3 linked regions of the Homo sapiens genome follow. The protein of the gene in region 2 interacts with the protein of the main gene of each other region in a pairwise test. Each region holds a gene or a part of one and is shown on either strand. Other genes may lie near its edges. The genes, in order: KPNA4, TMEM276 and KPNA3.

Region 1 (7,000 bases), on a different chromosome or scaffold from region 2:
TTCTTTCTGTATTTAGCTAAGTGTTCCTTCTTTAAAGTGCTTTAATTTTAAGGTACAGGGTCTCTAATCTGACTATGTATCAGTATCACCTGAAGAGCATTTTAAAGCTCAAGTTTCTAAGAAATATTTTCTGAAACAGAAATCTCCAGGGGTTGAGCAGGAGAAATTAAAAACAGCTCCACACAGTTTATTTTGATGTTCAGGCATAATGACTTAGGCTACAGACTAACGGTTTCTCTTATGCGATTATTGTACTTTACAGATTCTAAGCCATTAGCAGATTAAAATATACTATTTACCTCAGAAAGGTAGAGGGAGCTTGCTGCGTCTCCCCCATTACAACTGTAGCTTAACAGCTACTGCTTATATCTCTGAGAACTTCTCACACTCTGTTTTTGGCTCTTTCTAAATGCAAATTCTTTGGGATAAATATTATGTGAAAGAATTTAAACAATAAAAAATAAATTTAAATAAGTGAAAAGCAACAATTTAGAAAGTCCCTAAACAGCACATTTCAGTAGAGTACCCTTATTTCAGCACCAATGAAGATAAGAGTTAACTAAACTTGCCAGGTGAGTAAATAAGGATGGTTGGCAAGGAAGAAAAAAAAAGAAGTAGGGAAGTGAAAGAGGAAGAACAAAAAGAAGAGGAGTAGGAAAAAATAAGTGTCTGTCAATACTTGTTTCAGATGCCATGCATGTTGCTATAATGAACTTCCCTGGTCTACATTAAAAATCAGTAATCCGGCCAGGCATGGTGGTTCACACCTGTAATCTCAGCACTTTGGGAGGCTGGGGTGGAAGGATCATTTGAGGCCAGGAGTTCAAGAGCAGCCTGGCCAACATGGCAAAACCCTGACTGTATCAAAAATAGAAAAAAATTAGCTACACATGATGGTGTGTGCCTGTGATCCCAACCACTCAAGAGGCTGAGGTGGGAGAATGTTCCTTGAACCTAGGAAGTGGAGGTTGTAGTGAGCTGAGATCACGCCACCTCACTCCAGCCTGGGTGACAGTGAGACCCCATCTTAAAAAAAGAAATTAGTAATCTACAATGGCATCTTATTATTTATTTTCCCCTTTCCATCACAGATTTGTTGTTATGCTAAGAATATACTTTAAACTACTGAAATTGTCCATCTTTGAATGCCATGCTTAAAGCAATTAGTGGTAAGAAATACTTATAATTTAACTAAGAACAAACTTACCTGAACTTTAACTTCCTGGTGGCTGAGCAGAGGAACCAAATGAGGAACTATTCCAGAGTCTATTACCATCTGTATTTGTTCATTGCCAGCATCAGTAAGGTAAGAGAGGGCCCAGACTGTGTCTACCAGTATCTAATGAATAAAATAAAAATTCAAACAACTTTTAAATATTTTCTCATTTTAGTAATTCTTGACCAAACAACCATTCTAAAATTGTTCAACTACCTTCTTCCTTCTTTTCTTCTCTCAGTTTAATTCATTGGAATCTGATCGCTACGGTATTAAACATCATCATCTATAAATGTCTGTACTAAGACGTACATCTTTTAGCCATATTCAGGATTCTGATCCCAGATTAGTATCCAATCTTAGTTCACTAAGATACACACGCACACTACACAGCTCATAAAACAGGAGAAAAAGACATTCTCTTTCCCAAAGGCTGAGGGATAACAGGTCCAAAAACATTGTGGCTCATGTATAAAGCTGGAAAGACTACATGTATCCAACATGCACAGTTGTTCAAAACATCTGGGCTAGATGAATATATTCAAGGAGTTCTCTAGTATTGTAAGTACCATGTAGATATGCCTAAAGCCAATAACCCAAGTATTCATATTGTAGTATAAAATACTTTAATCTTTTCCAACCAGTTTGTTTTGCCTTACAGAACTGGAGACAACTTTTTTTTTTTTTTGAGACGGAGTCTCGCTCTGTCGCCCAGGCTGGAGTGCAGCAGCGCGATCTCGGTTCACTGCAAGCTCCGCCTCCCGGGTTCATGCCATTCTCCTGCCTCAGCCTCCCGAGTAGCTGGGACTACAGGCGCATGCCGCAACGCCTGGCTAAGTTTTGGCATTTTTCAGTAGAGACGGGGTTTCACCGTGTTAGCCAAGATGGTCTCGATCTCCTGACCTCATGATCCGCCCGCCTCGGCCTCCCAAAGTGCTGGGATTACAGGCGTAAGCCACTGCGCCCGGCCAGCAACTTCTTAAATAGTGGAAGTCCCCTACAGCTGCAGATCAAGACATTAAAATAATCATAGGTCAATCTGTGAGACCTGTAATTAAAACAAAAAATACGTACTTCACTACAGCTGCTACTTATGAAAAAAAAAAAAAAGCCTGTGTAATCAACTTCTACTAAGTAGCCTACCATTTTTTTTAACGATTACATCTTTAAGTACAACAGGCCATGTGTTTGATCTTTCCTAGTACGTTAGGTCCTAATTAGAAGTTATGACCAAAGGGCAGTATGACAAACAACTGTAACTGCTGCAAATAAATACACAAATTATTGACAAAGACATGGGAATAATAATTGTGCCTAAAACTACTTCCAAAGCCTTTCCAGAATATGAACTCTGTGTCAAGACAAGCTGGAGAAGTGTAAAACCTTTAAAACAATAAACTAGGCAGGGAGTAGTGGCTCACGCCTGTAACCCCAGCACTTTGGGAGACCAAGGCAGGTGGACTGCTTGAGCCCAGGAGTTACAGACCAGCCTGGGCAACACGGTGAAACCCCGTCTCTATGAAAAACAGAAACAATTCGGCATTGTTTATTTTTTCTTGTTTTTATGACCCTGACTTTAAAAAAATCGTAAAACTGTAAACTAATGTTATGCTTAGGACACCCAAGAGAAAATAAAAAAATAAGATAAAAAAAACCAAAAAGACACCCCGAAACTCCTAAAAGGTGAAAATAATGCTTTGCCATTGTTTCTTAGGAAATTCAAGAAAGCTCTAAGGATATTTCTAATGTAAAAAGAAGACATCAAATGAGAGTTCGCACAGGCTGGGTGTGGTGGCTCACGCCTGCAATCCCAGCACTTTGGGGGGCCAAGGTGGGTGGATCACGAGGTCAAGAGTTCAAGACCAGCCTGGCCAACATAGTGAAACCCTGTCTCCACTAAAAAATGCAAAAAAATTAGCCAGGCGTGGTGGCGGGCATCTGTAAACCCAGCTACTCGGGAGGCTGAGGCAGGAGAATCGCTGGAACCCAGGAGGCAGAGGTTGCAGTGAGTGGAGATCATGCCACTGCACTCCAGCCTGGGAAACAGTGCGAGACTCTGTCTCAAAAAGAAAAAAAAAAGAATTCACATAAAAAAATGGTATCAATATATGTGAAAAAACCTAAATTTCAATTTGCAAATGTAACTGAGTTTCTTTTCTGGAATATTAACATATGCTAAAATTTGTTGACATAGGCCAAAAATTTCAAGTTACTTGCTCATAACTGTATATAAAAGCTAGATACATGTTTTTAAAGGACATGTCACTAATATGCTCAGATCAAAATCATAATTCAAATCAAACTTCTAACACATTATTTAGTAAGCAATATTATTTGTTAATCATGTTACTAAAAAGAACAATGTAAACAGGCTTGAGAAATTCTTCAAGATACATCAAAGGCAAGAAAATGGAGTCACAGTCTCATCTAGATTGGAGTAAATAGGTGGAAAGAACACAATCTATCTCTAAATAAAGTCAACCAAGATGTCTTGTTTTCTAGTAGAGGTATAAACTTTGAAGTTAAATCTTTCTTGCCAATCGTTTTATTTATTTATTTATTTATTTATTTTTGAGACAGGGTCTTGCTCTGTCACTCAGGCTGCAGTGCAGTGACATGATCACAGTTCACTGCAGCCTTGACCTCCCCAGCTCAGGAGATCCTCCTGCCTCAGCCACTGAGTAGCTGAGACTACAGGTGCACATCACTATGCCTGGCTAATTTTTTGGTATTTTTCATAGAGACAGGGTTTCGTCATGTTGCCCAGGCTGGTCTCGAACTCCTGCACTCAAGTGATCCTCCTGCCTCAGCCTCCTAAAGTGCTGGGACAATAGGCATAAGCCACCACACCTGGCCTCTTGTAAATCTTTCAAAGCAAAATATTGAAATTCACAATTTAATCAAAGAACTTGGCTATTAAGGAGCCAAAACCAAAAATTACTTACACATTTTTTAAGATCCTAAACTATCTGGGGCTAAAAACAAACAAAAACTCTACCACAGAGATCATGTTCATCTAATGAATTTTATATATTATGTCACTGTTTGATACAGTAAAATTCTAATTTTAATTTGTTCCATACAAATTAAATTCTGGCCAAAAGGCATAGGCCTTTAAATTGTAAAGAAATGAAGCAGCTTGTCCAACACTGGTCACCATGCCAAACTGTTTTTAAAGAACCACATGAGTTCCTGATTGTTGCTAAACATTTCATTCATGTGTTTTCCCTTACCCATTATATTCCTGGTTTCTCTAACACACCAAAGGCTGGTCTGGCTTTTACAAGCACTCAGGGCAGTTTTCCACCTCATTCATACTCCCTGAGTTGCTTTTTCCTCTGCCATCTGTGTTAGTAAAAATAAGCAAAATATATTTGCTATGTTTAAAATCTTGCCTGCACTGATTTTTTTTTCCTGTTGTTTGGATAATCAAGTTATCTTGATAAATGAAGCCACTGCCAGTCACTGTAACTGAGAAATAGAATAAAAATGGAATTAAAGGGCAATTGATGTCCATGGTTTGGTATGTGTATATGAATACAAATCCATGCACAAACATTTTCCTTTTTCATCTTTCAAAAAACAAAAATAGCACTATTTGTGTGTGCTTTCATTGGCCAAACTGTCAAAATGACCTTCTGTAAAAAGCACAAGAACAATTAAAGACATGATCTTAGTAAGAGAAATCACCACTATCTGGCAACTTTAAAAACTTTTAATGTCAGTTTTTATAACACTAATATATACACATACATACAATATTGTCCACACCAAAATAACAGTTATGCTTGATTTCTTAACTGGTATTATATTTTGTGATATAGATAAACATAGAGTAAATATTAAAATATTATAAAATAACTAATCTAATATAAAATAACTCTTGAAATGGGAAAATCTGATAGTATGCTGACACAATGTGTTAGTATAATATTTCTCCCCTATGTCACAGGGGAAGCCCTAGAAATACATACATACATACATAAATATATAATAGGACACATTTACTCACATTTACATCTGTGTGATGAATTAAAACACAAAGGGCTGGAAGAATCTGAGGAGAGAAATATGTAGATTTAAAAACATACACAAATAAAAAATATATATATAATGGTATCTCTTTTAATTTTTTTTTAAAAGTGTTTACCTCCTGAATGGTTTCCATTGGTGGTGGTGGGTCTTTGTGGCGACATAAGTTGACCATAACCCAAGTAACATTTCTTAAGAATGTTATAGGAATAGATGGACTTATGAAGGAAAGTAAAGGTTTCACAACTCCAAGACTTATGACATAATCTCTACACTGGGGCCCATCACCTGTAGAAAAAAAGGATTAATTTACTCAATAAAACATACTGACAGTAAGCATTTTCAGAAAACACAAAGCACTGGGAATATGCTGCTTCATGTATTTTATCCAGATACACTGTTCAGTTTTAGACAATAACAAGCAGGCTCACATTCAAGGTCTCTGAGCCAAGAGAGGCAACATAAAGTGATAAGGTATTCTTTTGCACATTATTCCCATCTTCAGCATTTTGCTGCTCACTTAATTAAACTGCTGCTTTTAACTTCTCTCTCAACAATACTCTTGGTTTAACAAACTTTCATGTGATAAAAAAGATGTATCAAGAAAATATTTGTTGAATTTGTACTTATGATCCCGTATCAGAGCATCAAGGTTATGAACTATAAATTACTCTATACACTTAGAAAACTATGTCAGAAGAAAAGGGTGAACCAGTGCTAGAATAGTGGTTCTCAATGTGATTATTGGGCTCTAGCTCAGGCCTCCTGAAGCAGAAACTCTATGGGTTTGGAATTCTGTGTTTTAACAAGCACCCCATGTAGTCCTGATTGCATGCTAAGGTTTGAGAACCACTGCTGCAGAGAACTGCCAAGTTTAATTTCTGTATCTGAAGCATCACTGCAGTTTCTAATATGAAGCCATGTTGAAATGTTACCATAAGTGAAAGCACCTTCCCTTGCACTATAATATCTGGAGATAAAATGTTTGTTCTTTTTGCATCTTTATATTCATGTTAATTACGGAATGTCACTGGAATAAAAAAATGAAAGATCAAGATGCTGTATAATAGCTCTAAATCTAACATTTGGTATAAAAGCAAAAGAGTGAGGGAGTCTGGATATAGAAACAATAGCATTCCTAATAGTATAAACCCAATGTCAAGAATGGTTTACAGAGAAATTCTCCCTTAAAAACTCATAACCACTCTTTACTTTCATGTTGGCCCTGTATAAGGGCAATAAAGAGATGGCATATCAAAGCAACAATGATTATTTCCATGCAAGAATAAAGAATTTGGCAAAAATAATCTTTAGAATCATTCTCCTTCACTAGATTAGCAATACCCCTACAAACAGTACCTCAGCCCCCACTCATAACTGTTAGGTCTCTGAGCTATACTGGGGCACAATACAATTCAGATTTTTTCCATCCTTTACTGGAGAATAGTTCTTTGAATTTTTGAGTTTAGGCTCTAGTTAAAAAAACAAATCCTTGAAATATCAGAATTGTCTTTATTTTCCTTACAATTATTTATCAGAGAGAACCTGAAAGTTATAGTAATCACAGTGTTAAATATTTAACCAGACTGTCAAAAGGCTATGGTTATGTCTTGTTGATTCATGGTGACAGGAAATAATATTACTATATTTTATACATTACTAAATTCTAATGTACTGAAGTCTGCAAGAGAGAAAAAATTTCATTTTAGACTCTTCTCAGAACTGTCATTACGGAGAAAAATTATTGGTTTA
Region 2 (7,086 bases):
GTGTGGGGTGGGGCTAAGGCCAGAGGGATGTGTGGGATGAAGGAAGAAGTGGTTGGAAAAGAGGCAATCAGGGTGACCCTGGCCACCTGCTGGGCAGTCGTCCCCCTGTCCCTGTGAGGCTGGCAGGCAGCCTGGTTGGGAGTCGCTGCCATTCTGCCCCTTACCTAGTCTCCCCTGGCTCTGAGCTGCCATCTCCTTAGCTATGGGAGCTGTAGCAGCAAAGGGCATGTGCAGATGAAAACGTGTGTGAAAGTGGGGTGGGCTGGGGCTGAAGCCCCTGCTTTTCCACAGGTGTCTGGCAGGAAAAGGGTGGGGAAGGAGAGTGGGATCCAGGCAAGGCAGAGAGAGCACACTAAGACTAGAAGGTTGCCTCCTCACCCACGGCCCCCACCACCCACCGCCTGCCTTGGGGCCATAAAGCAATGAGGGGCCCTCATAGCTGGGCAAACCCTGGACCCCAGCAAAGGGGAGTGGGCAGGCAGTGAAGCCTGGGAGGAGGAGGCACCAAGCTGGGCTGCCTGCCCTGCTTCCCAGCCCCCTCGGTTCCCTTTCCTTCCTGGCTAGAGCCCAGCCACCCTCTCTCCTCCAGGTGGACACCCAGACTGGGAAGGGGAAACTGGAGCCTCTCCTGCTCTTCAGGGAACTCTGAAAAAGGGTCAGGATGGCTGCAAAGGCAGGCTGTCACCTCCTCCTGGCTGGCGTCTGGAGGGAAGACCCAGTCTAGGCGGAATCGACGATGGCGCCCCCGGTAGCAGGTGGTGACGGTGCCCCCTGGGCCAGGCTCCACACTCACAAGGCTAGAAGATGTCCCTGGCCTCAGCCGACACAGCACACGGATATTTCCTGCAGTGGGGATCAGGTCAGCATAATGCCTCGCAGACCCTAAAGCACAGAGAAGCTGCACTTCTTCCAGCCGCCCTCCCTGCCCCGCTAGGCTCCCAAGCCTGTCATACCCTTGAGTTCTGGCAGCCGCCCTGGGCATCCGGCTGGGGGCCCTTGCTGCCCCTCAGGGAGCTGAGTGCCAGGCCCTCCAGATGACAGTGCCCCCAAGGCCCAGGACACCTGAGGGAACAGGGATGTACAGAAGGCAAGGGGTCAGCCAAGGAGCTGCGGAGGTGGGGGGTGGGAGGGTCCTGAGAGCAGCAGGGAGCCCCCACAGGCCCGCTCAGCTGTGCTAAGCCACAACTTTCAGTGGCTCTGGGCCCCTGGGGACATCATTGAGTAACCCCAGGATAAAGCCCAGGAATGACAGGCAGGAACACCACATCATCTGTCTCCTCCGTGCTTCTGGGCAATGCTTTAAGAGTTTACTGTCAACCAAGTATGCATAGAATTAAAATAAGGCCCAGAAGTGGAATCCCACCCTGGGTCACACAGAAGCTGTTTGGGTTCCAGAGCCCCACTTATTAGTACAGCCAACTCCCCAGGAACGCCCCCGTCAAAAGAACAGTGAATAGGCTGCCCAGAGAGGAGGGGCTAGGCGGGGAGGGGTCCTGACCTGGCCCCGGGCCTCACTCAGCGAACCCTGACAGCTCTGGGTAAAGGTGCTGACCAAACCTCGGAGGTCCCCGCAGCCCTGACGCAGGCTGGCCATCCGTGCCCGAAGTCCTGGAGAGGGAAGTCTGTTGGAAGGGAAGGCCCAGCCTCCAGGGCCTCCCATGAGCCCCAACCCCAACCCTTACCTGCCAGCTGCCCATGCATCTGCTGTAGCTCACGCCTGCAGTTCTGCTCCGTCTCCTGCTGGAGCTGCTGGAGGGCCCCTTGAAGGCCCTGCAGCTGCACCTCCTGCACCCCCAGCTGCCCCGCCCAACCCCACCCCTGTCACTGAGGAAACAGGCACTTACCAGGCCCTGCCTCAGATAAGCCCCTCCCAAAACCCCAGCCCGCCTCACCCCTGAGCCATGGATCCCTGGGCCCCATGCCCACCTGGGCTCGGAGGGCTTCTGTGGTGTCTTGGGCCTCCTGAAGCCGGCCCTGGAGCTCTAGCAATGCCTCTGCCTCCTCCTGCGGGAGGGTGGGGGCCAGGAGGGACTCAGAGAGGGACGGTCTGTGGTACCATTTCACAGATGGGAAAGTCAAGTCAAGAGGTGGGCAGAGCTGGCTGTGAACCCATGCCTCCCAGCTCCACGCAGACCTCCTTCCCACAGTCCCTCTGCTCTCCTGGGGTCAGCCACTCAGAGGGGCCACGGAGAGGGGGGTCTTCCCATTGGCATCAGCCTCCCTGATGGGGCTGCCCTACACAGACCATCCCGGGAGGTCCTGAGGAGGCTCGGGCCCTGTGGCTGCATGCCAGGTGTGCAAGAGCCCCAGGCTGCAGGAACGGCTGCAGCTCGGGAGCAGAGTACCTGCGGAGCCCTGATGGGGGGCCCGGGGCCCCAGTGCAGCAGGAGGTCCCGCATGAGACTCAGGCTCTGCTTCAGGGCCTCGTTCTCCAGAGTCAGATGCTGAACCCTTTTCTCTGAGTCCGTCGCCCCCTGGTGGAGAGGAAACCTCGGCACTCACCTGAAGCACCCCCTCCATGCCCGGCCCTGCCAGGTCTCCCTGCAGCCTCACCACGCCCAGGCGCAGTCGACCCAACTCCTCCTCCTGCTGTTCCAGCTGCTGCTTCAGCTCCTCCAGCTGGGGAGAAGTAAGAGAGACAGGGTGGACCTCCTTTTTCTGGCGTCCCAGCCGGCAATCCCTTCTGGCTCCAGGGACCTCACCTGTCCCAGGATGAGCTGCTCCAGCCGCTGCCACGCCCTCTGATCCTCCTCCAACTGGAGGGGCTGCTGTCCCTGGGTCTCATCCCCCAGTGGCTCGCCTGGGACTGCGGTGAAGTGGGAAGGGCTTTCTTCTTGGGATGTGGATCCTGGAGTAGGGTGGGCCCAGTTAGCACTGAAGAGGTCTCTAGTCCAAATCTTCCGGAACATGACCCCGAACTCCAGGCCGCCCAGGTTCTACCGGGATTTGCTCCCTCCAGAGTTCTTCTTCAACTTACTGTCCTTTACTCACCATCTGGAGAGGGGGGCCGGACCCGAGGGGCTGGCTGAGTCCCCTGGAGCAGGGCCTGCCTCCCCCTGGGGCTTCGAAGCCATGCCAGAAGGGCCAAGAGCTGACTGGTCACTGTCAACAGTGAGGGGACCTCGCCAGACTGCGAAGGAGACAAGAATCCGAGCAGGGCTGTGAAAGCCAGGAAGGCCGGGGCAGGTGGTACCTGCCAGCAGCCCCCTCCGCCGCGCTCACCTGGCCCAGGTCCGCCGGGCCCCCGCAGCTCTCTTCCGCCCCCAGCTGGACGGAGAGGAACTCGGCGAGGCGCAGTAGGGCCTCTTCCAGGGACACCGCGGCCGCGCGGCCCTCGGCTGCGCCTTCCGACCCATCCTCAGGCTCGGAGCTGGCTGCCGGTCAGGGAGGAGGGCGGGAGACATTTCGGGTCACGTGCTTGAGCCAGGCCTCCGCCCCTCCCTGGGAGGTCCCGGCACCGCCCTCGCACCGCGGGACTCCCAGCCCGCACCTACCGGCCAGGCCGGTCAGCTCGGTCCACAGCTCTGGCGCGGGCAGGTCTGGGCGCCGGCGACCCCGGGGCTTGCGGGCTCTCTAGGGAGGGGGCAGGGGCGCCCCTGAGGAGGGGGGCAGGCAGCCTGCTGGCCCCTTCCCTCCGCGAACCGGGCCGGAGGATTGGGGCCGAAGTCTACGCTTCCAGCATCGGGGCCGAGCCGAGGGTCCTCGGCACGGCCCCGTCGCCCCGCGCCCCGTGCCCGCCCCCGCCCCGGGAACCTCGGCGTGGGGGTGGGGCAGGCGGCGGGAGACGACGGGCTGCACGGCCAGCCCCGCTCACCTGGGCGGGGTCCCCGGGCTCCGCGGCCGCCGCGGCGCCACCATCCCTGCGGAAGAGGCTGTAGAAGATGTAGATGAGCAACGAGTAAAAGGCGTACATGGGAGCGCGGGGCGGCAGAGGGCCCCGCTTCGCGCCGCCCCGCGTCCCCGCGCCCAGACTCGGCGCCCGCCCGCCGCAGTGCCGGTGCGCATGCTCGCGACGGCCGCCCCCACGGCCCGGCTCCCACGGCTGGAAGGCGAGCGCGGGGACGGGGGTACTAGAAACAGGTGCCCGCGGCCGCACCTGGAGACCCGCCGTTTCTCACGGCGCCGCCCGGCGCGCCCCAACCCCTACACCGCGGACACCGGGCTGAGAGCGCCCACGGCTCCCGCGACCCTCCTCTCGGAATCCCTCCCACCCTCCGCGTAGTCCCCCACCGCTCCGGTTTCGCGGAGCCTTCAACACGCCGGGGTTCTCCTTCCTCTCCCTACAGCCCCGCCCATCTCAGCCCCGCCCATCTCAGCCCCGCCCAGACCCCCCCTCCTCGCAGCCCCGCCCAAACCCCGTTCCTTGCAGCCTCGCCCAGGCTCCTCCCCTCTCGGTCCCTCTCAGTCTCGCCCAGACCCCTCTCCTCGCAGCCCCGCCCAGGCCCCGCCCCTCGCAGCCACGCCCAGACCCCCCCATCGCATCCTCGCCCAGGCCCCGCCCCACCCAGGCCCCCTCCCTCTCAGACCCGCCGCTCTCAGCCCCGCCTAAACCTTATCTCCCTCAGCCCCGCCCAGACCCCCCGCCCCTCGCAGCCCCGCCCAGACCCCGCCCCTCGCAGCCCCGCCCCGGCCCTTCTCCCCTCATCACGCTCCTTCCAAACCACTATGCCCACGCACGCACCCACCCAAACAGAGCGTTTTCTGGTCCCCGAGCTCCTCCCGACCCCACCCGCTCCTACGGCCTCCAACCGGCCCCCCCCAGGTCTCGACCCTCTCCCCCAGGCCTCGACCCTCCCCCCCCAGCCGCTCTAGCCCCGCCCGGCCGCTCTAGCCTCCGCTCCTCTCGCTGGTGGAGGTTCCCGACCGCGCTCGCTCCCGCAACTGGGGGCACGGCAGAGGAGGCAGGGCCGACGGCGGTGGGCGGTGCGTTGCGCAGGCTCGGGCCTCCCGCTCGCCGCTGCGTTGGGACCGCGCAGCCCGGTAACTGCGCACGGCTGGCCTCCCGGAGTCCTGCGCCGTCGCTCCTCCTGGACCCGGGTTCCCAGGACAACGCCTCCCGGAACGCAGGGAGCAGGCCGAGGCCGCCGCGTGGGCCTGCAGCGCCTCGCCGCTCTCTCTTCCCCAGGCCCGCACTCCCACTTGGGCTCCAGGGCCCCAGGGCTGACGTTCCCCCCAGCTTAGACCCTGAGTCGTTTTCCCCCGTTTCCCGGCTGAATTAGGTTCTTCTTCTCCACAGGTGTGTGCAGTGGCCTCAGGGATCCGGAAAGTCTAGGACTGAACTTCTCCTAACATCCAGTAATGGGGACCTGGAACCTGGGCTTACTAGAGTGCCGCGCGTAGGGCTCCAGGTCGCTGGCTTCTGCGCTTCCTTCCTCTCCAAAGTTGAGTATCTCCTATCTGTGTCCTCGTACATACTGCCGCCTGAGGTGCCATGGCCCCCAAGCCGGGGGCCGAGTGGAGCACAGCCCTGTCCCATCTGGTGCTGGGAGTGGTGTCTCTGCACGCAGCCGTGAGCACAGCCGAGGTGAGTACACTGGGGCTGAGCAGGGGCGCATCCCCATACCTCCCAAACCCCAAGGACCTAGTTTCCTGAATTAGAGAGAGGTTGGTGGGAAGTGCGTCTAAGACCAGGTCTCCATGGAAGCCCCAAACCCTTTCCTGTTTAAAAGGGTGACCCCGGCCTCTTTTTCCCACGTGTTCTCCCTTCCCTGTGTTGACAGGCAAGTCGAGGGGCTGCTGCTGGCTTCCTGCTCCAGGTCTTGGCTGCCACCACCACGCTGGCCCCAGGGCTGAGCACACACGAAGACTGCCTTGCTGGAGCCTGGGTGGCCACCGTCATCGGCCTTCCCCTTCTGGCCTTCGATTTCCACTGGGTGAATGGGGACCGCTCCTCTGCCAACCTGCTCCTGGGAGGAGGCATGGTGCTGGCAGTGGCTGGCGGCCACCTCGGCCCTGAGGGCCGCTCTGTGGCTGGTCAGGCAATGCTGTTGGTGGTCGCAGTGACCATCCTCATTGTAGCTGTCTTCACGGCCAACACTTATGGGATGTGGGGGGGGGCGATGCTGGGTGTGGCAGGCCTCCTGAGCCGGCTGGAGGAGGACAGGCTGCTGCTGCTACCGAAGGAGGATGTCTGTCGCTGGGCCTTGGCTGTAGGCAGCTGGGCTTACTGCCGGGCCCTGCATACACAGCGCCTCCAGTGGGAGTGACAGTTGGATACAGCCAGGCAGGGTTTCTGCCCTGCCGAACACTTTCCCTCCCACCTGCCTGCTCCTGGCGCCTTCTCCCTAGGGGTAGACTCTTCTGCCTACTGAAGTGGGTTTGCTGCACATTGACTGGTCAGGGGCAGAGTCTGGGTGCTGTCCTTTGGCCACGTGTGGGGACTTGTCTAGACCAGAATGAAAGGGACAGGGTCCCAGACACGTTTGGGGGTCCTGATTCTGGGCTGGACACGGTTGTGGATCCAGAGAAGAGGCCTAGTCTCCAATAAATCTTAGGAATTTTGCAGGAATATGAAAACTGCCCATTTTTGAGAGGGATTGAGGGATCTTTCAGTGAGCTTCCTAAGGCCCCTCAGGACAGTAGTCAGTTACCCTGACAGGGTATGTGCTGGAACTAGGATGGGGTCTCATGCAGCCCGGCCTCCTTTTGACTATTGTCAGGAAGACCCCTGGGCTGAGAAGACATAGCCCTGGGCCCTTACTCTCCAGGGACATGGTGGAGTTCCAGATATCCTGGCCTGGCCTGGCAGGTGGCCCTCTGGGGCAGTGACCTTCAAGAACTGAAGAGTAGGGTGGAGGCAGGGGAGGGCTGTACCACAGGCGTTTCGAGAAACGCACATCCTTCCCAGAGCTGATTCGCCCTCCTGTGTACCTCCGGCCTGTGGAAGCCAGCCCTATTCCCTAATACCTTCGTTTTCCTCAGTGGACCCCTTCAGTCTCCAACCCCAGGGTTAGAGGGGGTTCGGACGAGCAGAGGATTAGATTCCGGTGGGTTAGGGGTCTGGAGTCCCCTCTCCTGGAAGTCTCTCCGCTTGCTCCTGTGGAGACCTAAGGGGTCCCGCACCCGACAGAGAGGGGTGGCCGGCGG
Region 3 (7,162 bases), on a different chromosome or scaffold from region 2:
ACATTCCTCTATTATTTCAGCTATTGTGCTTGCTTCATCACCGGCCATTATCAGAATGTTTTTTAGACCATCTAGAACCACCTGAACCACTTGAGAATCTTTCACTGACAGTAAATTACAGAACGGTGGTATTACATTCTGCTGTACAAGGTACTCAACCTAGACAACAAAAGAGAAGAAATATTTTTATTTATATAATTATCTATTTCCCAGTAGGGTGTCGTGCTACATGGAAGGCTGAGGCAGGAGGCTATCTTGAGCCCAGGAGTTGGAGGCTGTAGTGCGTTATGGTCATGCCTGTGAATAGCAACTGCACTCTAGCCTGGGCAACATAGTGAGACTCCATCTCTTAAAATAATAATAATTATCTTTTCCCCAAAAAGAACACAATACAGTCAGCAACTACGAAACATAAGAGAGCAGCATGCTTTCCAGTATTAACAATCATGACAGTTACAGGTTTTCAAACTCACCTGATCTTTTCTGCCACTTATTGTTAAGTTGCTGATTGCCCAAGCAGCTTCTTTTTGTGTTCCAAAGTCCCCCTGAAGGTTAAAAATGAGATCATAAAATGGACTCTTTATCCAAAAAGTCTTGGTTATTAACAGATTAACAGACACGGTGAACTCATAATATGACCAACCTTAGCAAGCTGATGAATTATCATAGGAATTAATCCAGCATCTATTACAGCTTGAACTTGTTGCTGGTTGCCTGCTGTTATGTTGGAAAGGAACCACACTGCTTCCTATAATTGAACAAAATATAGGGCACCTTTATTTGAAAAATAATACCTTTAATGTCTTTCTAATATATTTTATATAGACAATAACAAAATCACCTGAATTACGTTAAAGAGACTGCACCTAAAAAGTGATTAGGTATACAAAATCTTCCATTTTAAACAAGTTATAAGGAAATTTCCATTAATTATATTTGGGCTCCAATAACCTGGCATTTATCCATTCATTAATATATAGGCCTACTATAAGCTAGGCATTATTCTAGGAAATGGTGATTTTATAGAAATGAACAAAACAGAAATCTTTATTCATGGAGCTTACATGTCTGTGCATTAGCTTCCTCTAAAAGACAGAAATAAATATACAACTGAATTTCTTTTTTCTTTTCTTTTTTTTTTTGAGACGGAGTCTTGCTCTGTCGCCCAGGTTGGAGTGCAGTGGCGTGATCTCGGCTCACTGCAAGCTCCGCCTCCCGGGTTCACGCCATTCTCCTGCCTCAGTCTCCCGAGTAGCTGGGACTACAGGCACCTGTCACCACGCCCAGCTAATTTTCTTCTATTTTTAGTAGAGACGGGGTTTCACCGTGTTAGCCAGGATGGTCTCGATCTCCTGACCTCGTGATCCACCCGCCTAGGCCTCCCAAAGTGCTGAGATTACAGGCATGAGCCACCGCGCCCAGCCACTATACAACTGAATTTCTAAAACTACTTAAAAACTACTTCTAATAAAGGTGATTTCTTTTTTAATTTTAAAAAATATTTACTCACAAGATATAGTCATTCAAGTATTCCATAAAAATTAACCATCTAACTAGTCTAGCATGGGTCTATATAACATAAATATTCTAAAACTAAGGGATTTATAAGTCATAAACACGTCTGTGAGCTGTTTACAGGTTAGTATCACATGTGTATCTTCCTCTTCCACAAATGAATTTGTTTTGCCATCCAACTGTGGTAAGTTGTTAATAATTGCTGAATCTGTGTTTAGAGTACATGGGTGTTCACTATACTATTCTTGCACATTTTTTGTAGATTTAAAAAGTTTCAAACAGAAATGCTGAGGGAAGAAAATCAAGTTGGTAACTTCTACTTCCAGGGTCCTATGATAGTCTCAAAATGCAAGTAACAAATTTTCAAGGCAAAAAATTTTTGAAGTAACTAATTGCTTGCTGAAGTTGAGATGGCATTTCTATGAAATTTTCCTCTACCCCCCACGATACCCTCACTTAAAAGCATACTACATCACAGGCCGGAACCTTTCTCTGCTGACTTCTGCCCAGCTTCCTCACTTCTCAGTTGTTTCCAATTATGGAATATATTCATTTAGCTAAAAAAAAAAAAATCACCTATATTGTTAAAAATTTCTTTAGTAAAAGTAACTGGCCCAGAGTCTGAAAGTCTCTGGCTTCTTTGTCTTCACTGGAACAAATGTATCTATAAAATGTGTTTTTTGACACCATACTTTTCTATAAGAACCCAACAGTCAAATTATACTCAAGCAACTATACAAATATAGTTATGATGACGAAGAAGAAATGATCAGTTCTGCTGGGTTTGGGTGATGGTAGTATATTAGGCAGATAAAACTTTAGTAAACTAAATGTAAATTTATTTCTTTTTCTTTTTTCCTTTTTTTTTTTTTTTGAGACAGAGTCTTGCTCTGTCGCCCAGGCTGGAGTGCAGTGGCACAAACTTGGCTCACTGCAAACTCCACCTCCTGGGTTCATGCCATTCTCCTGCCTCAGCCTCCTGAGTAGTTGGGACTACAGGCGTCTGCTACCACACCCGGCTAATTTTTTGTAATTTTAGTAGAGACGGGGTTTCACTGTGTTAGCCAGGATGGTCTCAATCTCCTGACCTCGTGATCTGCCCGCCTCGGCCTCCCAAAGTGCTGGGATTACAGGCATGAGCCACCATGCCTGGCCAACTAAACGTAAATTTAAACCACAATGAGACACCACTTCACATCTACTAGGATTGTCAGTAATTTTTTTTAACAGAAAATAAACGTTGGCTAGGATGTGGAGAAATTAGAATTCTAGTAACACTGCTGGTGGGAATGTAAAACAGTGCAGCTGCAATGGAAAACGGTTTGGTGGTTCCTCAAAAAGCTAAACCCAGAATTAACATATGATCGAGCAATTCTACTTGCAGTTATATATCCAAAGAAATTGAAAGCGGGAACTCAAATAGGTATTTGTATGCCAATGTTCACTGCAGCATTCTTCGTAATAGTGAAAAGGTGGAAACAACCGAAGTGTCCATCAACAGAAGAATGTAAAAACAAAATGTGGTGTATACATACAATGGAATATTTATTCAGCCATAGAAAGAATAAAGTTCTGACACATGCTGCAAAATGAATGAACCTTGAAAACATGCTAGATGAAATAAGCCAGGCATGAAGACTTATTACATACTAGTAAGTACATATTACACAATTAATAATAAACTTGTCTATGAAGCTTGAAATCTTAAAAAGAGTAATTTTTTATGATCCTTGAATTTAGGCACCTCGTCTTTGGGTCCAAACTAATTTTGCTGGGAGATCAAAATTTTTATGATCGGTTTGTTTAAAAAAATACCAGCCCATTCAAATGGCAGATTTTGTCTGCACTTTCAAGCGGCTACTAATTTAATGATTGTTGCTATGCTCAGTCTACTTAAATAGAAACACAGGTAGTCTAAAAATGTTTTTTACTCTGTGATGACCAGGGCAGCACCTACCAGAAGCGATTAAAAGTTGAAAAAGGCTGGGCGCGGTGGCTCACGCCTGTAATCTCAGCACTTTGTGGGGCTGAAGCAGGCGGATCACAAGGTCAGGAGTTCGAGACCAGCCTGGCCAATATGGTGAAACCCCATCTCTACTAAAAATACAAAAATTAGCTGGGCGTGGTGGCGGGCACCTGTAGTCCCAGCTTCTCGGGAGGCTGAGGCAGGAGAATCGCTTGAACCCAGGAGGCAGAGGTTGCAGTGAGCCGAGATCGTGCCACTGCACTCCAGCCTAGGCAACAGACAGACTCTGTCTCAAAAAAAAAAAAAAAAAAGTTGAAGAAAAACATTTGCAGAGGTGATTTAAAATAATTCTCATCTTCGCTGCAGTGGCTTTTAAGAAAAACATACAAGTAGCAATAGAAACAAGGAGACAGTTAAAAATGAGACACAGAAAGAAATAGCATAATGAGGACATTATATGCCTTACCTTATTTATCTTCTCTTTTGGGTGTGATAAGAGATTTGGGAAGTGTGACAGGACATCACAATTGAGAACAACCTGGGTCTGCTCGTCGGTGCCAGTCACTATGTTGCCAACTGCTCTGAGGGCTGCTGTCTAGGGTGGGGATAAAATGTTTTCTATAAATTTATTTGCTTATAAGACTAATTCTATATTTTTCATAATCCTGAGAAAAAGTAAAAATGCAAGGCATAAATAACACTTATTTCATCCTTTCACAAAGCACCAAGCAGTCTGAGAGCTATTCTGAATTTTAAATAGTCTCTTGTGAAAAACTGAAACTTTATGAAAAAAAAAAATTGTGTGAAAATTGGTTGGAAAAAGATTCAAAAAATAAAAGGAAATTAAAATTTTAGAAGAAGTCCAGTTTCTTAAGGCTGGGCATGGTGGCTCATGCCTATAATCCCAGCATTTTGGGAGGCCGAGGCGGGGGGGATCACCTGAGGTCAGGAGTTTAAGACCAGCCTGGGCAACATAGTGAAACTCCATCTCTACTAGAAATACAAAAATTAGCTGGTGTGATGGTGCATGCCTGTAATCCCAGCTACTCTGAAGGCTGAGGCAGGAGAATCACTTGAACCTGAGAGGCAGAGGCTGCGGTGAGCAGAGATCGCGCCACCATACTCCAGCTTGGGCGACAGAACAAGACTCCATCTCAAAAATATATATAATATTTTAATAAACGCCTGGAATGGGCACACACTTCCACCTAGAAAGTCACTTTGGTAAAGCAGGATGAACAGATCTAATAAGTGCCTACCCCTAATTAGAGTGGGAGAGAGAAAGAAGAAATGCAATTAGGTTATTGCAATTATTTGGGGGAAAGATAGAGTCTTGAACTAAATCTGTTGTTCTAGATAGATAAGGAGAGACAGATTTGAACCTATATAAGAAGAATTGAAATGATTTTGTAATGGAATGGGAATTGCAAGGAGGAATCAAAATTTCTAGCTTAGGCCATGCTGTTCACTGAAGGTAGACAAGGAAGAAGAGCAGGTTTGTGGGAGATGATCGTTTCATTTCTGTCTAGTTAACCACGGAAAGCTTGAAGGAGTTCTTAGATGATATGTATAAAGGGTCAAGAACAATTGGCTATACAAGTGTGGAACTCAGCAAAGAAACTGGGTGAGATAAAGATTTGGAAATCAACAAAATCAGGCTCAGGGACTAGCAGAAGAAATGTGGAAGATAAGCACTTACAGATAGAATTAAAGCCTAGCTGTACAAGTTAACTGGTTATAGCAAACACAACTGTATACAAATAAGAAAAATTTAAAAATACTTACTTGAACTTTGACTTCCTGATGGCTCAGAAGGGGCACAAGAAAGGGCACAACTCCTGAATCAATAACCATCTGTATCTGTTCATTACCTCCATCTGTCAAGTATGACAGAGCCCAAACAGTGTCTACAAGAATCTACAGGAAACACAAAAGAAAAACCATTTTACATATTTGTTTGAATGCTTTACTTGTTCAACACACCTCAGGAGTAGTGACAGAAAAAGTAACCAAATTTCAAGTTTTAGCTTAGTGGCAAAAATATCTGCTTAGCTGATTAATCTATTAAGTAGAAAGTACCTTATCTTTCTTTCAGTGCCTACCTCAGATCATTCTTCACAGAAAATGAGACACAGAAGTCTGGGAAAACTTCTATTCCAACTTCTGCATTTATGTATCAGACAGATGAATTTAAAAACAGGCAGAAAAGTAATTCTCCCTGCCCTCACAAATTAGCTACCTAATAATCCCACAGAAAAACACTATTTACAAGAATGAGGCCAACACACCATACTGTTTCAAGTTCAGAAGAGAACAGAAAGGTCATCTATTTACTCTACTGGTTTTCCAACATATTTAGCAATACAATTTTTCAGGCTACTAAAGTAAACCAATAAAAGAAATGACTTGGCACTTTAACTTCATCTGGGGAAAAAACTGTTTGAAAATCTCCTGAAATGTGTCCCCAACTGAAGTATAAACCTGGAGTATAAACCATGCCCTAGGCCTATCCTAACTTTGCAACTACATAGAAGAAAACAGGCTTAGCGATCTGGTGATTCATTCAAGGTCAAAGATCTTGTATGTGGCATTGCTTGGTGTCGTCACAGAGGAATATAAGCACTGGTTGTAGCTTATGCAAAATCAAGATGTTTCCTATTAGGTCATCCAAATTGAAGACATCACATCTTTTTGCCCTAAAATAATAGCAGGCACCTGAATTCACATACCCTTCAAAAAAGGATATAGATGAATAAATAAAATAGAACTACACATATAACCCACACCCCTTCAGCATTACTAAGAGTCAGAGAACACTAAAAATTTCCATTATCTGTAAGAGGAGAAAAAATTAAATTCTAGCTTTTGTCTGGACCTCTTGCCTCAAGACTGTGTAAAAGAGAGGACAGAAGCTGGGCCTAAGAGCTGAGCCCACCTACCAGCCCATTTCCCACTCTGGAAGTGAGGAGGCCTCCCTGCTGGAGGTGTCTGCAGATGCTGGGTCTGAGAACAAAGTCTGGCTACTGCCCACCCTGGCAGTAACAGTAACTAGATTTACCTAGAAACAGGGGTCTCAAAGCATAACACCAATATGTGTAGGCTACAATGGAAAATAACCCTTCATACCAAGATCCAGGAAATTCTCAAAAGAGAAAAGACAGTCAACAGATGCCAATATTGAGATGACACACATATTGGAATTATCTGACAAGGACTTGATAAGATTTTAAAGTAACTATCATAAAAATGCACTGGTGAACAATTATGAACACATTTGAAACAAATTTAAAGTGGGAATTCTCAGCAAAAAAACCCGACATGATAGAAGGGGGAAAAAAAAATAAATGAACCCAAAGATACATCAATAGAAATCATCCAAACTGAATAACAGAAAAAAAAAAAGATTAAACAGAAATTAACTCTCAGGAACTTCCAGCACAATAACAATAGATCTAATATTTGTGTCTTCAGAGACCCTACAAGGAAAGGCGGAGCTGAAAAAAATATGAAGAAATATGTTCCAAATTTGGCAAAATAGATAAGTCTAGAATCAGATTAAAAAATGGGAGGTTGAGGCAAGAAGAGAAAATAGAATAAGCTCATGCATCATTGCACAGGTAAGAGACAGAAGTAAAAAAATATATCATTTAAAACTGTCAAAACAGATAGTAAGAGAGCATT

The links.
Region 1: the proteins of TMEM276 (region 2) and KPNA4 interact in binary tests that used the Homo sapiens proteins (3 or more experiments, as listed by UniProt).
Region 3: the proteins of TMEM276 (region 2) and KPNA3 interact in binary tests that used the Homo sapiens proteins (3 or more experiments, as listed by UniProt).

The regions. Positions count from the first base shown.
Region 1 is NC_000003.12:160,520,572-160,527,571, forward strand, and holds part of KPNA4 (importin subunit alpha-3), read right to left. Parts: intron 5,537-7,000; coding exon 5,367-5,536; intron 5,274-5,366; coding exon 5,229-5,273; intron 1,340-5,228; coding exon 1,208-1,339; intron 1-1,207. UniProt on the Homo sapiens protein: Functions in nuclear protein import as an adapter protein for nuclear receptor KPNB1. Binds specifically and directly to substrates containing either a simple or bipartite NLS motif.
Region 2 is NC_000008.11:144,463,247-144,470,332, reverse strand, and holds TMEM276 (transmembrane protein 276 precursor), read left to right. Parts: upstream 1-4,840; 5' UTR 4,841-4,980; exon of another isoform or gene 4,981-5,236; 5' UTR 5,237-5,431; coding exon 5,432-5,524; intron 5,525-5,720; coding exon 5,721-6,206; 3' UTR 6,207-6,508; downstream 6,509-7,086. Other genes in the region: kinesin-like protein KIFC2, read right to left, coding at 686-843, 954-1,062, 1,499-1,608, 1,683-1,797, 1,927-2,004, 2,346-2,474, 2,554-2,619, 2,703-2,848 and 4 more; TMEM276-ZFTRAF1 (uncharacterized protein LOC157542 isoform 1 precursor), read left to right, coding at 5,432-5,524, 5,721-5,873.
Region 3 is NC_000013.11:49,705,625-49,712,786, forward strand, and holds part of KPNA3 (importin subunit alpha-4), read right to left. Parts: intron 5,399-7,162; coding exon 5,267-5,398; intron 4,077-5,266; coding exon 3,948-4,076; intron 749-3,947; coding exon 644-748; intron 546-643; coding exon 474-545; intron 160-473; coding exon 1-159. UniProt on the Homo sapiens protein: Functions in nuclear protein import as an adapter protein for nuclear receptor KPNB1. Binds specifically and directly to substrates containing either a simple or bipartite NLS motif.